Regions from separate parts of the Homo sapiens genome. Here region 2 is linked to region 1. A link means that fine-mapping ties the variant in region 1 to the expression of a gene that starts in the linked region. Tissue or cell type: Th1 cells. Region 1 holds a variant in brackets; the other region holds the start of a gene. All regions are shown on one strand. Distances are between the middles of the regions.

What was found. PIP is the estimated chance that this variant, and not a neighbour inherited with it, causes the effect.
Region 2: it holds the start of CDC7, and the variant in region 1 is fine-mapped to the expression of CDC7 in Th1 cells (Schmiedel 2018, PIP 0.95).

The regions. Positions count from the first base shown.
Region 1 is chr1:90,908,471-90,911,155 of GRCh38, forward strand. No RefSeq gene overlaps it. Among named protein-coding and RNA genes, the nearest start is that of LINC01763, 58 kb to the left of the region's middle. The variant C/CA (reference allele first, on the strand shown) is at 1,547.
Region 2 is chr1:91,499,229-91,501,913 of GRCh38, forward strand. CDC7 (cell division cycle 7) reads left to right here and starts at 1,623. Exons shown (of 12, transcript NM_003503.4): 1 at 1,623-1,720; 2 at 2,426-2,603. The coding sequence starts at 2,489. LOC105378856 (a long non-coding RNA gene) reads right to left here and starts at 1,620. Exons shown (of 3, transcript XR_947599.4): 1 at 1-1,620. RefSeq lists an enhancer at 2,265-2,464.

The DNA of each region.
Region 1 (2,685 bases):
AAAAACAATAAAAAGTATATCTGAAAAAGAGCCAATGGAAATTCTAGATCTGAATAATAGTATAACTGAAGTAACAGTCGCTGAGAAAATCAGGGGAAGAAACTAGAATGCAGCACAGAGAGACAAAGAGAAAGAAAACAGAGAAGACAAAAAATCTAGAAAGCACAGTGAGAAGGATTTAACTTATATTTAGAGTCCCAAAAGAACCAGAGAGAGAAAATGGGGCAGAAAAAACAGTTGAGAGATAAATAACAGCCAGGAAATTTCCAGAATCCCAGCAGAGATCTCAAACTTGACAACAACAAAAAAATTCCCACAGACATATTAGAGGAAAACTTTAAAAACTCGAGATTAATATAAATGTCTAAAAATCAGCCAGAAAATAGAGAACAGATTATTTTAAGATGAGCAACAACTGAACTTCCAAGAACAAGGCAGAAAATGATGGAATAGCCTCAATCTGTGAGGAAAAAATAACTATCAATATAGAATTCCATACCCAGTAAAAATATCATTCTAGAATTAAGTGAATATCCATACTAACTAAAACATCAAATAAACCCTAAACAGTGAAAAAAAAAATTAACCAAATAAAGGCATCACCAGACATACAAAAGCCAAGAACATGTGCCATAAAATGACTAAAAAATTTAAAAGGATTTATTGGAAGTCACCATAAAGCAAGTGAAAAGTACAGTCACAAAGTAGAGGATATCTGCAACACATACAACCTAAGGATTAATGGAATTGCTAAGAGTCAATATGGAAAAAGACAGACACCCCAATAGAAAAAAATGGGCGATCAGTAAAAACATTTTTCAAAAGAGAAACATAGGTGGCCAATAAACCTAAGAAAGAATAATCAGCCTTATAGTAATCAGGGAAATGTAAATTAAGTTCACAATGAAATATCATTTATATGCACCAATGAGTAAAAATTTAAAAGTCTGACTGTGTTAGTGAGAATACAGAGGAATAAGAACTCTGACACAGTCCTTCTGGGAGTAAAAACATGCACAATCATTTTTTAGAAAAGTTTGGCTTTATCTAAGAAGCATAAACTATATAGTCTATGACTAAAAAATCCCACTCCTTGGCATGTACCTTAAGAGAAACCCACAGATGTTCATCATGAGACATAATAAAAGTGTTCATAGCTCCACAGCTTTTAAAAGCCATAAGCTGAAAACAACTCAAATGTCTATCAAGAACAAAAATGGATAATTAAATGTGTCATATCTATAATAATAATATACAACAGTGAAGCCGGGTGTGGTGGCTCACTCCTGTAATGCCAGCACTTTGGGAGGCTGAGGCGGGTGGATCATTTGAGGTCAGGAGTTCGAGACCAGCCTGGCCAACATGGTGAAACCCCATCTCTACTGAAAATACAAAAAAATTAGCCGGGCATGGTGGTGGGCGCTTGTAATCCCAGCTACTCAGGAGGCTGAGGCAGGAGAATTGCTTGAACCCGGGAGGCGAGGGTTGCAGTAAGCCAAGATTGCGCCACTGCACTCAAGCCTGGGCAACAGAGAAGACTCCGCCT[C/CA]AAAAAAAAAAAAAAAAAATACAACAATGAAAATGAATAAACTATAGTTACTAACAAAAACAGAGATGAACTTCAAAGACGGTATTAAGCAAAAGCAACAGGTCACAAAAGAGGACACGCAGTGTAATTCCATTTCTATGAGGACAAAGCAGACTGCATGCTTTCTAAGAGGTCAAACTATTAAGAATGGTAAACAAATGATTATTAGAAAAGTCAGAATAATGGTAAACAGAAGAAAGAGAATTTAATTGGGGATGCTGGCAATGTTCTACATCTTGTCTTTAGGGTAATTAAGGTTATTTCTTTAAATATCAGAGTAACATATTTACGTACTTTATCTCACAATAAAGCCAATTTGGTAAGTGGCAATTTGTTCATACTTTAAACATTTTGAGTATTTATAATATTTAAGAATTATCTGGTCTATTAGCCTAACAGTTCAGCCTCCTAAATCCAATCTAAAAATGTGTAAATGAGTAATCAACATGGACTTGTACTAATCATTTTAAAGTAGAAATCTTATTAAGTTATCTGAGGCATTGAAATAGCCAAGATAATTCAAGGTTCTACATATTAAGACTAATTTGTTCTATTTATAAAAGATACTTATGTACTTGAAAAGGTTTTAAATCAGGGAACAGAGGTTCTTGAAATAGAAACTGAATATACTGAATTTAGAAATGCACTTTTAAATGTTTTTAAAATTCTACTAAGGTTGTAAATGTGACTACACATTATCTAAAAGCTCCTTACTTCAAAGTATTTGCTGAAATTTGCTAAACTCATCAATAGAAAAAAACAAACAAAAAACCACGAGTTTGACCTTAGAAACTTAAGAAAGAACTAAATCTCTGGATTTATATCCTTAAGAAATCATCTTTTTAGAGCAAACTTCTAAATAATATTTGTCTACCAACTTGTTCAGAAGACACAAAACAATTCACATTTAATGCTATTTTTCACATTATATAAAAGCAAACGAAAAAACCTATGCCAGAAGTTTTTTTTTAATTCCCAAACACCAATTTATATGCCGGAAGATTTTGAGGGTTAATTTTAATTAAAATTTGTCTAGGATTATACTCAAAAACACAAAACACTTGACAGTTGATATGGTGACATATGCTACTTTCAAAGAA
Region 2 (2,685 bases), 590 kb after region 1:
GGGTATTTTAATAAGTATTATGTAGAAGGAAGGAAGACTAGACTGAGGTTAAAACTATAATTGGTAAAGAAGCAGCAGGCACTCATATTAGCTAGGATAAGGAGATATTTGATCATTTTTATGGCTTGGGCAATGTTGATGTTGTGTCTGTGTTCACATATGATTATAGAGTGATCTTACTTTTGTCTTGATCTATCACGGTCACAACTCTGTCTTGTCTGATGTTCTGTGAAATTGTTTATGTTCAACAGAAGAATACCAATGCTTGGCTGTGATTGCCAGGCCAGCTCAAAGCAACAGCAAACCAAGCTGGTAGTACCAGGCCATCTCCTGGATGTCAAGGTCTGCTTTTCTCTTTCTCGGTATCCACACTAGAATCCTTGATTTACTCTCTTCCACCTCACTCAATCAAAAACCATTACCTCACAGACTTCCCTTCTATGTGGCACTACCACCCACACATATGCTAGCCCAAAACCTAAGATTCACTGTTGATGATGCCCTTTTCTTCATTTTCCATAGCCAATCACCAAATCCCATTGTCTTCTTTCTTTTATTTCTTCCGCCATTGTTCTGGTCCAAACTACCATTATGTTTCTCCTAAACATAAAGTGCATCCTATTTCCTCTGCTTCCACACTTGCCCCTCTACAATCCATTCTCTTCATAACAGATAGATCATATTACTCCCTTGCTTTAAAACTTTCAAATAGCTTCCAATTGTACTCAGAACAAACACTAAACTTCTTACCCTGGCTTTCAAGGACCCTGGTCTGGCTTCTGCCTAACTCTCCACCTTCATCTATCTGGGACTATCTTGCGGCTCACTCACTATGCTTCCCCCACACTGGCCTTTCCTGCCCTGCCCCTGCAACATACCAAGTTCCTCTTTCTCTCTGCATTTGCCCTATCCTTTCTTTGCCAGGACAACAGTCTCCCTACCAGCTCTTTCTCATCCAGGTCTCTTTGAGAGGGCTTCCCTGACCATCTAGATGCCACCTTCCTGGTCAGTATTTCCCTCAAGTAGTAATCAATGCCGGAAAGAATACTGTTCATTTATTCATCCGTTATTGTCATCGCTTCATTGGAATTTAGCTTCCTACAGGGATGGTGTTTATCTTGCTCACTATGATTCCAGCCCCTAGAAAAACCCACCTACCTCATAGCCAAGGGCTCAGTAAATAGTATACACTGCCTTCCTGCCACTGTGCTAATTTCTACTAACACAGCCACAAACAATCAGCAATTACATTTTCTGCTTGTTTTTAACGGGGAAGTAGGGCACTCAACGAAAAGGAAATAAAAGCAGAGTCAAGAAAGTGCCTTTTATCCATGGAGTGCCCAATGTGTTGTGCGGCCGGCCACGTATATAGGGATGTGTCAGCACCTGAGATTTTTCCTTCTCTGAGCTAGCTTCTTTCCTGGAAATCATGCTGGGCCCTTAGCCTTATGGTTCACCCTGTTTTTTAAGATCATCCACGGGCTTCATTCCCGTAACCGCTCTTCTAGCTGGCCAAGGCGGCGGGAAGAAACCCCACCCTCTTGCGCAAACGCCCAGTAGCGGAATCCGCGGGGTCGAGGGCTTTAGTGTGCGCATGTGCAACCAGAGCGGCGGCGGGAAGTGTTGCGCAGGCGCATCCGATCGACTCGGTAGGTGGGGATCTCTTGGAGACGGCGACCCAGGCATCTGGGGAGCCACAGAAGTCGTACTCCCTTAAACCGTGAGTTTCCGACGGTTTGTTCCATGGCGCGGGATTGTGAGGGATTAGGAACGAATTCTGGATCGTGACTTCGGTTTTCTCGCCGTGCAGTTCCTTTTCCCGCCCCCCTTCGGATCCCTCCGACCTGCGGCGGGAAAGTCGCGCGCCTGCGCACTAAGCATCTGGTTCGGTCTCTGGCCCGAGGGAAGCCGGTCCTTCCCGGCTGAGCTCGCGGCCAGCGCTGGCCGGCGGATTCCCATTCATTCACCCTTCTCCTCCTCCGCCCAGTACTCGTGGCCAGGGTCGTATCAGTTCTCCGTCAACTTGCTTGGGGCCTTGGACGAGCCTCCTGGCGCTTCCTGTCAGTGGCGAAAAGGTTTTCTCCCTCAGTTCTTTTCCTGACTTCAAACCGCCCCCGGCGCTCGGCCCCTCCCCCACGCGGTCCCGCTGGCTGTGCCGGACTGGCAGCCTCGCCGTTTCCCACTGCGCCTGCTGCTGCGCGGGTGCCCAAGCCGGGAAATTCTCCCTGCAGCCCCCTGCCGGTGTTTCTGATAGGTGAAAATAAAGCACATGGAATTCCTTAGACAAGGCCACAGTATGCCCTACTGTGGAGGTTTGGACACATCGTGCGTTTGAAAATGTTTGCCCCTTTGGGGGGCAGTAGCATGTTTTTAGTGCGTGGTTTAGCGAGTGATCTAAATTTCTCTAGTGTTCTAATTTTCACAGCTGCTTTGCTCCCCCTGTGGATGTAACCCCTTAGCTGGCATTTTGCATCTCAATTGGCTTGTGATGGAGGCGTCTTTGGGGATTCAGATGGATGAGCCAATGGCTTTTTCTCCCCAGCGTGACCGGTTTCAGGCTGAAGGCTCTTTAAAAAAAAACGAGCAGAATTTTAAACTTGCAGGTACGTGTTTAAATCCAAAGATGTACAGTTATAAAGATTTTTCAGGCAACAATTCTGTGTTTTCAATTCCTCTCAAAAAATA